3 linked regions of the Homo sapiens genome follow. The protein of the gene in region 3 purifies or fractionates together with the protein of the main gene of each other region. This does not show direct contact. Each region holds a gene or a part of one and is shown on either strand. Other genes may lie near its edges.

Region 1 (3,396 bases), on a different chromosome or scaffold from region 3:
TCATTGGGGCATTAAAATATTGGTGTTTAAACTTTTTTTCCCATTTGTGAGTTATACATCTGATCTTGGGCAGGTTTCTGTATTGCATAAAATCAGTGGTTAGGTGTCCATCTGTTTTTTGTTTGTTTTTGAGACAGGGTCTCATGCTGTCACCCACGCTGAGTGCAGTGGGATGATCATAGCTCACAGCAGCCTTCCTGGACGCAGGTGATCCCTTCGCCTCAGCCTCCCAAGTAGCTGGGATTATAGGCACATGCTGCTACACCTGGCTGGTTTTTTGTTTTTAACTTTTTGTAGAGACAGGGTCTTGCTGTGTTGACCAGGCTGATCTTGAACTCCTAGCCTCCAGTGATCCTCCTGCTGTGGCCTCAGATGTCCATATTTAATTGGGTTGACTGAATAGTTGTGCAAGCTAACTTGTGAGGAATTTTAAGTAATTGCTTAGAAGTGTGAAATTGAAATATTATGGATTAAATTATAGGAGCCTGCTTTTTGCATAAATTTGGTATGTGTGTCATGAGGAAGAACCAGTCATCCCCACTCTAAAGATAGGAGAGCTCAGATGGTAGCTAGAGACATGGCATTCATACAGGCATGTGTTTAGACTAATGGCTGGTACCATTTATTAAAAGTCTGCTACATGTTAGGCAAGTATTATGGGTGATTTACAGATATTCTCATTTAATTTTCACAAGAGCTTTATCAGGTAGGGATTATTACACTTATTTTAGGTAAAAAGGTCTCAGAAAGAGTTCAACAATTTGTCTAAGGTCAAATAGTTCAGGAGCTGGAATTGAGCTCATCCTGGAGATAGCCCCTGACTTTTGAATACTTTTCTTGGTGATAATTGGCCTTGGGCCTTCCCCACTCACACCCTCCAAAGCCTTTCGGAAATCTTGAGATTTGTCCATTGGGGATTTGAGGAAATAAAATGTTCAGTTGGACAGAATATTAATCAGATTGATTATAAATGCTGGGTGTTGTTTTTTTTTCTTCCTAGAATTCAGATCAGGAAGGAGGTGGAAAGAAAAAGAAGAAAAAGAAGGACAAGAAACACAAAAAGGATAAGAAGCACAAGAAGCACAAAAAACACAAGAAGGAAAAGGCTGTGGCTGCAGCTGCTGCAGCTGCTGTGACCCCTGCAGCCATTGCAGCTGCCACAACCACATTAGCACAGGAAGAGCCAGTGGCAGCGCCAGAGCCGAAGAAGGTATTTATGAACTCTGTATATGGCTGTCTTGCAGTTTACGTACAGATAGCAAAGTCATTTTGTTTTGAGAAGTAGCAAAATTGTTTTTTCTACTAATTAGCCAGTTACTCTGAGATAAAAGTCACGTACCATACAGTTCACCCATTTAAAGTTTGTGGTTCCCTGGGTTTTAGTATATCAGTTGTGCAGCGATCCCCACACTTTTTTTTTTTATAAAGGTGACTTATTTATTTAAAATATTAACTATCCACAGTGGCCATTATATTTGCATACAGTTCAGTACTCAAAAGATTTGTGAGGTTGGTTTTTTTTTTTGTTTGTTTTTTAATTTTATTATTATTATACTTTAAGTTTTAGGGTACATGTGCACAATGTGCAGGTTTGTTACATATGTATACATGTGCCATGTTGGTGTGCTGCACCCATTAACTCGTCGTTTAGCATTAGGTATATCCCTCCCTGCTCCCCCTACCCCACAACAGTCCCCGGTGTGTGATGTTCCCCTCCCACACTTTGATTCTGCTCTTTACTCGGCATTTCCCACCAGGGTCTCAAGACTTAACCGTGTAAATTCTGTTTTTTTTAGGAGACTGAAAGTGAAGCTGAAGATAACCTTGATGATTTAGAAAAGCACCTGCGTGAAAAGGCCCTGAGATCAATGAGGAAGGCCCAAGTGTCCCCACAGTCTTAGGGGGAAATGTTTGTTATGATGTAAATTTTATTTGGTTTGTACGCAGTTCAATTTCAAAATTGCTAAAATGTGTTTGAGCTTTAGACTATAACATTTGTTGTAATAATTGCTAGGTTGAAGTTCAACATGTAAAAAAAGGGGGCATGGATTTACATTGCAAAAGGTGTCCACAGTGTATTAGTGACATTCTTTCATTGACAGCTGACATAATTCATTGAGTGAAATATTTTAAGCCAAAAAAAAATTCCCTTTTTAAAAAAGGGGGTTTAAATACTGTTGGCATTTTTATGGTTCCTTTAAATGCCCTAGCTATTCCCAGAGGGGTTTTTTTGTTTGTTTTTTTGGTTTTGATTTTCTTTTTGTTTTTCTTTCTTCTTCTTATTTTTTTCATTTGAGTCTTAGCTCCCATTTAAGTTATGCTTCTGACCTTGTATGGTCTGTAAGCTTGCCCAGAAATAAGACCACTGTTTTGAACTACCACAAAAGTATAAATGAATATTTTAATGCCACAATCTTTCCTGTTGCCTGTGGAGTCTCTGCTGAAATGAATCAGGATTCGAGCTCTAGGATGAGACAGAAAATGAAAGCATGTTGTTTGCCAGGACACTGTGGGTTTATATTGATGTGTAACAAGTTGATTTGGAACACTGGACTCTCATTCTGTTATTCTGGTTTTGTTTTTTTTGTTTTGTTTTTTTTCTTTTGTAAAGGCAATGAGCTAGTCCCAGAAAGGATCCTTCAGTTACATACAATTTGTTTAATGAAATGTCATGGCTCTGTTCATATTTTTGTCTTGTTCTTCCAATTGGTATATACAACTTTCAGAGCCTCTTGTATTTGGAAGGCTGGAAGGGCCCAGACTTTGGAATAGTGTCTTGGTTTCACTGTTTTTGTTTTGATTTTTTTTTTGTTTTGATTTTTTTTAAACTAAAGCTATATAAAGCTTGTGGATTAAACAGAATAAATTTCTAAATTTAAAAATTTTGCCACTCTTACTTAGTAGTGCTTATGTAAACCTTTTGGTGTGTTGGGAGTTGGGCAGGGGAAAGAAAAGGTGATGAAATTAAGGTTTTACCATCTTTATTTCAATAATTACTGTGGTGAGTGCTATAAAGGGAATCAGCATGTGATTGGAACATTTAGAATACTGGTGGGAGAAGTCCACCAGGCAAAGAGAACAGGATTGCAGTCAGACAAACAGTGTCTGTGTCTTCCCTGAGGCAGAAGGAGCCTGCTGGCATGTTAGGAAGTGAACAAAGGCTAAGGAATGACTGGAACACCCTCTGTCAGGGGCGGGGTGGGGGGGGGGGGGTTGTGTGTGTGTATGTGCGTGTGTGTGTGCGTGCGCACGTAATATTTGGCTATCTACAACCAAGTCTGTTTTGCATTTAAAACTAAGTGGAACGAAAATTTGGGGAAACTTGGAGTTGTTAACATAGTGTGAGGTAAAACAGCAACATTCGTATGAAAGAAGTTCACCAGAAACCTAAGCTGA
Region 2 (3,656 bases), on a different chromosome or scaffold from region 3:
CTCCTCCTCCAACATCAGCTGCCAGAAACCTTGCTTATGGCTTCCTGATGCTACAAAAGCTGAGGCAAGGCCTTCAGTCTGTTTTTTCAAAGCAGTCATTCCGGTAACACTTCTAAAAGCAAAACCACGTGATCCATGCCTATAATAGGGAACCCTTATGGCCAAAGTTTCTAGTTGATAGAAGAACAAAAGAATTAAGGTAACAAGACAGGTGGAATGTGTAAGAGCTTGGACTCTGAAGTCAGGCTGGATTTGAATCCTGTTTCTGCTACTTATTTGTGAGGTTTTGAGAAAACCAAGTTTTAGATTAAGTTCATCCATTAAGTGGGGGCATTAAATGCCTGCACCATAGGGTTATGATGATTAAATATAAAGGATTTAGCAAAAGAGATGCCTGCAGCATAAATAACATTTTTAAAGTATTGGTTTTAAATGAGACAGTGCTGATTTTTAAAGGCAACCTACCAGAATGGAGGTTGTTGATTATTGATTCTCCTTTTTCACTGCAGAATATTAGTACAGCTGTTTTGAGTTTGTTTTGTGCTTAATAAACCTTACATCAATTTTGCAGTTCCTAGGGAACTTGGAAAACTAGGGATAGATCATCATTTTTGTTATCAGTAGCCACAACTTTTTTCTCCTCAGTGTCGTTGGGGTTTCTTTTTTTTCCCCTCACCGCTAGATGTTTTGACCGAACATTATGTTCAGTCTGTTCTTTGCTACCCTTCTCCTGTCCCATCATGCATGACTGTGTTCTTTCTTGTTTTTTTCCTTCTACTCTTCAACAGCTGCCCCTGACAAATGTGCTAAAAATAACAAGTAGACTTACATATATGGAGAGATTGGGTACATGAGACATAGTAGCTTTAGGGCAGCACTCTGGGCTTCTAGGAAACAAGGACAGGAAAAGTCAGTGAGATTGTAATATGCACTTATTTTTAGCGTCTTAATAGTGCTTTCCTGAAATACTCCTCCTTAGTGTTTGGCTTATACAACATATATCACGTTTGCTGAAAGCATGATGATTCTTTTTCATATCTTTTGAAATAAAATGTATTTCACCTTAGGAATTGAAGTTTCAGAGCAAAGTCGTTCCTTAGTGCCACGTAAAACATCATATGCAGAAGCTGATCGAAAGCTGCTTTTGAACATGTACGCTTATTCCTGTAACTTAACTGCATTTAGTTAATTGACTGAATGGCTGACTTTCCTACCTATTCCATGTCAGAAGTAAAAGTTGTCTTGATCCTTTAAACCATATTTTTTAATAATCTTTATAATATCTACTAGCTCTCTGACTAAGTAGTCTGGTTAAGCCAGTCAAGAGCATCAAAAGAAAATTCCTAAAGCTCTCATCCATATAACTAAGCTACTTCAAGGTTGTCAGTGTGTTCTCTTAAAAATATATAGATGGATCTCTAGGATAGTAAAAATTATTGAGATCAAATATAAAAGTCTTCGCCAACGTTTTCTACTATTACAACGCTATGAAATTTATTGGGCATAATAGAAAAAAAAAATAGGAATATATAGGCCAGTGGTATTTGCCTTATGCACTAAGGACATAATATAGCATGATTTATTAGTGACTGAATAACTTCCATTTTTAAAGAAAATAGTTCTATAGATTTGAAAATTAAGTAGAATCATTCACTGAGCTACTATGTGCTTGTTGTCTTTGAGAAAATAATTATATGATGGAGGGAAGGGAGCAACATTGTGGCATCTACCAGGTGACAGATATTTGGAATCGGTTCTTACTTTAGTTGTCTCTAGAGCCTGAGGGAAGCAGTGGTTTCCATATTTTTTGTTGTTGTCACAAATGAAGGAATTTGATTACTTTTAAAAATCAGCAACTTTTATTTTACATGGACAAGAAGTGGTAGAACTTAATTTTAATTCATTTTGTTCTTGTCATCCAGTCTTTCTGGCAGACTCTCATCCTTTATACACGTTAATTGCTGTTTCTGTCAGTCTTTTTTTGTGACTCAACAGTTTCTGAGGAAGAAATGGCCGAGCTTACTTAGGAAACTAAAGAGAGGCTCATGTGATGGGGATGATGTGAATGAAGGGGGAGAGGGTATGAGGTGAGATCTCAGGGGAGGTCAGACATGCTGGTAGACCACTGTAAAGACTTGACCTACTGTAAATGTGATGAGAAGCCAGTAAAGGGATCTCAACAGAAAAGAAACATTGAAGAGATTATTGGACTGTTTTGTTGGGACTAGACCACAGGAGGTAAGAGTATAAAAGCAGGGAGAACAGCTGCTATAATCTTTTCAGTAGAGAAATGAACATGGGTTGTATTAGAGAAGCTGGCAGTGGAAGGTCTGATTAAATGGTTAGATTTGGAAAATGTTTTAAGCATATAGAGGTGTTGGCATTTCATGATGGATTGAGTGAAGAGTATGAGGAATGGTAATATATTGTATGAGGAGTAAATAATACCTCTGCAGTTTTGATTTAAACAAATACGGGAATACTGAAGAAAGATTGGGTTTGGAGGGAAAGGTGAAAATTCTTTGGAGGTCTTTTTCTCATATTAAATTCACGTACAAGTGGAGGTGTTAAGTAGGCAGAAGAAATAAAGCAGAGGGAAGAGGTAGAAAGTGGCTGGAGGATGGAAGGTGTAGTCTTAGATACAGTGGTTGACAACATTTTTGGGAGTTCATTAAGTTGTATTTGAGAAGAGACCTAAATGGAGCAAGGGATCAAGTCCATCAGGTCCCAGGAAAGGCGTGAATGGGAGTCTGAAGGGGAGAAATGGAACTGCAAATAATTATTTGGAATTATTTATTTATTTATTTATTTATTTATTTTTTGAGATGGAGTCTCACTCTGTCACCCAGGCTGGAGTGCAGTGACACGATCTCGGCTCACTGCAAGCTCCATCTCCTGGGTTCATGCCATTCTCCTGCCTCAGCCTCCTGAGTAGCTGGGACTACAGGCACCCGCCACCACGCCTGGCTAATTTTTTGTATTTTTAGTAGAAACGAGGTTTCACTGTGTTAGCCAGGATGGTCTCAATCTCCTGACTTTGTGATCCACCTGCCTTGGCCTCCCAAAGTGCTGGGATTACAGGCGTGAGCCACCGCTCCTGGCTGATTTGGAGTTATAAAACAGGATGTTTAAAGCCGTAGGGGCAGGATGATATTAACTATAAAGTGAGTGTAGGTGGAAATAGGGTCCTAGGATCAAGTTCTGGGACACACCAACGATTAAAGATTAGGAAGATGAGGATTGTCTAGCAAAGGACAGTGAGAAGGAGCAGCCAAGGAGAATGTATTTCAAGAAAGAAATGTGTTAAATGCTTGTTGATAAGTAGAGATTAAGCTGAGAATTGATTATTAGATTTGGTAACTTGGAGGTCAGTGGTTTGGTGAAGACAAAAGTTTAAATAGAATGAACTTAAGAAACAGCAAAGGGCGGGAAGAGGAGACATATTCCCCATTGAGGTTTCTGTAGTGGTGGTCATGGTGTTTGGTTTTTCTTTAGTATGTATGTCTGTAAAGAAATGGGGTAGTAGCTGGAAGAAGATAAGGGATCAGAGCAAGATTTTTGCTTGATTTGATTTGCTTTTTACAATGCAGAGTTACCCCTGGTCTCTCCCTTACCCGTTACCTCACCAACAACTTCTAAAGCCATTAAATGGGCAG
Region 3 (3,656 bases):
ATGAAAAACTTCAGGCTTATACTACTTGCATGTCACCTGAGAAGTACTATTTAAAGGATAGCATTTCATTCACCACAGAGACACATACCCTAAAATATGAAAGGATATTCATGGAAAAACTTGTATCTTTTACATATAAGGTATTTTAAAATTTACATACAGTAAAAATCCTCGTTTCACATACAGTGAGAGTTTTGATACGTGTATCACCATCACAATGAAGATGCAGAAAAGCTCCATCACTCCATCATCCTGTGCTGCTCCATGTAATCAAACCCTCCTTACCTTCTTAGCCTCTGGTAACCACTGATCTGTTCTCCAACCAAAAGATTTGCTTTTTCTAAAATGTCACATAAATGGAATCTTACGGTCTGGCCTCTATCATCATAATGGATTTGAGAGTCACTCACTCTGCTGCACATGTCAATACTTCGTTTACTTTCATTGTTGGGCAGCATTCCATTGTATGGATATATCAGTTTGCTTATCCATTCAACAGCTGAAGGACATTTGAGTTGTTTCTGGTTTTTTGCAATTATGAATAAAGCAGGTATGAACATTTTCAGACAGGTTTCTGTGTGAACATTTCTCTTGGGCAAATATTTTGTAGTGTGAATGATGAAACATAAGGTAAATATGACCTTAATTTTTATAAAGACACTGCCAGTTGTTTTCCAAAGTGGCTATACTATCTTGCATTCCCACCACTAATGCAGAAGAGTTTTGGCCAGGCGCAATGGCTCACGCCTGTAATCCCAGCACTTTGGGAAGCCGAGGTGGGTGGATCACCTGAGGTCAGGAGTCCAGGACCATCCTGGCCAACATGGTGAAACCCCATCTCTACTAAAAATACAAAAAATTGTATTATATAAAATATATATATATTGTGGTGGTGGGTGCCTATAATCCCAGCTACTCAGGAGGCTGAGGCAGGAGAATCACTTGAACCTGGGAGGCAGAGGTTGCAGTGGGCTGAGATTGCGCCACTGCAATCCAGTCTGGACAATAGCGAAACTCTGTCTCAAAAAAAGAGAGAAAAAAAAAAAAAGAGTTTCAACTGCTCTGAATGTGGTAAAGGTTTCTCTTTTTTTAGAACATTCTTTTCAGATGCGTATAGCTTTCTGGTGAAAGTGTCTGTTGATACCTTTTGCCCATTTTTAAATGAACTTATTGGTTTTCTTATAGTTGAATTTTGAGAGGTCTTTATATATTTTGGATGTTAATTCTTTCTCAGATATCTGACTTGGAGGTACTGTCTTGGAATTCTCTTGACAGTGTCTTTTGCAGAGAAAAGTTCTGAACTGGTCTTTCTCAAAATGTATCTTTTTTCCTTTTATGGTTTAGAGTCCTATCTAAGCACTCTGCCTAACACAAGATATCCTCCTATGTTTTCCTCTGAAAGTATTATTGTATATTTTACATTTACATATGATACCCATTTGGGTCAATTTTTATACAGTGGGAATTAAAACTGGTTTTGGGTTTTTCTGCATACAGATGTCCAATTGTTCTAGTACCACTTGCTACAAATACTGTATTTTATCCACTGAATTACCTTTCACCTATATACTAACCATGTATAGACTATTTATCTGTTTGTCTATCTTTCTGGCAATATCACACTGTATTAATTCCTATAGCTTTATACTAAGTCTTGAAATCAGGTATTCTAAGTTTGTTCTCCTTTTTCAAACATATTTTGGCCATTCTAACTCTCTGGTCTCTTCATATCCATTTTAGAACTAGTTGACAGATAGCTACAAAATACCATGCTGTGATTTTGACTGGGATTGAACTGAATCTACAGATTACTGGATTACTGACTCAGTCTCTCACTATGGGCAGAAGCCTTAGAATAAAGACAACAGAAATTGTATACCATGGGATTTTGAATGAAGTCACTAATAAAGGAAAATGACTAAAAATGTTATCTCTAACGTAGGAATGTATATGGATGTGTGTTGTGCATGTACTGAAGAATGGCTAGAATGGTAAAACCATAGCTATGACTGGTAAGACGAATACATTAAACAAACCAAAGAAAGAGGATAAAGCCAGCTGAGAATGCAGAGATCATCACTTTAAGTTTTCCTTGCCTAGCAGCCTACACCTACTAAGATGAAAAGCATGGGCCTGAGGGGAAACTGTAGGCTGGATTACCTGAAGGGTGGTCCCAATAACACCCTAGACTTAATCAACTGACTACTGCTCTAGTCTCAGACTCTCAAATAAGCTGCTGTACTTGGAATCAACACCAAGACTTGTATGTGTTTAGACATTCCATTCACTTTGCAAACTGAGACATAACAATCAAGTTCTTGAAGAAGCTCTTTGCCTGAAATGAGTTTATTACAAATTATTGATAAAGTACTCATATATGTGTGTGTGTGTATATGCTTAGTAGTCACAGGCTAAAGGATGACTGAAAAGTTAACCTGCTGCACATTTCAGAGCAATTATATGAAGACACCTGCAGATGCCTACACTCTCTGAGAGTACATTTTTAGCTCAATGAATAAGTTTTACAATATTCTAGGTAATAAATGTGGTAAGCAGCTGTCTTTCAAACATACGATGAAACAACACTGTAGGATCTTTTAATGAGATGACTCACATGAGTGGGCTGTGGGTGGGGGGGAACCTTGAATGTCAAGCTAAGGAATTTGGATTCTTATTAGTAGACAATAGGGAACTAATAAGATGGTAAACACTGGACAACACTATGAAGAGTAAGAGACCAGCGTCAGGGATGCCACTTGAGAGAGCATCTCTTACAAGCCTAATGCTAAAGACTGATGCTAAAAGTCCACCATTCTACACTGTAATTTCCATAACTACAAGTCTAACTGCTCCTTAAAACAGCATTTTTGAGACTGGCAAATTACTCCCTGCTTGGTCCCATCTGAATTTCTTCATGGGTGCTTTTAGCCTCTCCAATAGTCACCAATGAAATCTGATGTATGAATGCTAACTATATTCAAGTTTGTACCTAATTTCATTTAAAATTTTACAAAAGCTATATTCTCCATTAAGAATAAAACTTTCTAAAATCTAAGTACTGGGTTTCTTCACATCTAATGTTCCTAGCTGAACATATGCGTAAGAAAAAGTTGCACAGACCAGCTTAAATTTCAGCTCTGTGGCCTTGGGTAAGCTGTTTACACTCTGAACCACCATTTCTTCATCTATATGATGGAAGTAAAAATAGCTATAAGATTTTTTTATGAGGGAAAAATAGACAATGTCAAAGACATTGTAGCATCAGTTACACACTAAGCACACAATAAATGGTAGCTATTACTGTAATTATAGCATAAACACCAAAATGACTGTAATATAAAAATCTAGGGAATATAGGAGCAGGAAATTTAAGAGAGGTCCCAATATATTCTTCTCATTGGAGCAAAGACACTATTTTAAATCACCTTACCTTTCAAAAAAGTAATAAATTATATGCCCAGTTGTGATCTCTAAACACTATTACCCTCTAAAAGGAACAAAAGCTCTTTGGATAAACAACCGATTCCAGGTCTCAGCCCATGCAAGATGAACCTGGGATATCTTGTTGCATCAGAAAGTAAGGAAAGGGTTAAAAAAAAATGGTCATGAATACTTTTTCACCGTGGTCATGTGGGCAAACTAATATGCTGTCTGGG

The links.
Region 1: the proteins of EIF5B (region 3) and SRRM1 fractionate together in Homo sapiens (co-fractionation; one large-scale study listed by BioGRID). This does not show direct contact.
Region 2: the proteins of EIF5B (region 3) and YBX3 fractionate together in Homo sapiens (co-fractionation; one large-scale study listed by BioGRID). This does not show direct contact.

Annotation. Positions count from the first base shown.
Region 1 is NC_000001.11:24,670,386-24,673,781, forward strand, and holds the end of SRRM1 (serine/arginine repetitive matrix protein 1), read left to right. Parts: intron 1-1,000; coding exon 1,001-1,210; intron 1,211-1,796; coding exon 1,797-1,901; 3' UTR 1,902-2,896; downstream 2,897-3,396. UniProt on the Homo sapiens protein: Part of pre- and post-splicing multiprotein mRNP complexes. As a component of the minor spliceosome, involved in the splicing of U12-type introns in pre-mRNAs. Involved in numerous pre-mRNA processing events.
Region 2 is NC_000012.12:10,706,183-10,709,838, reverse strand, and holds part of YBX3 (Y-box-binding protein 3), read left to right. Parts: intron 1-3,656. UniProt on the Homo sapiens protein: Binds to the GM-CSF promoter. Seems to act as a repressor. Also binds to full-length mRNA and to short RNA sequences containing the consensus site 5'-UCCAUCA-3'. May have a role in translation repression.
Region 3 is NC_000002.12:99,364,824-99,368,479, reverse strand, and holds part of EIF5B (eukaryotic translation initiation factor 5B), read right to left. Parts: intron 1-3,656. UniProt on the Homo sapiens protein: Plays a role in translation initiation.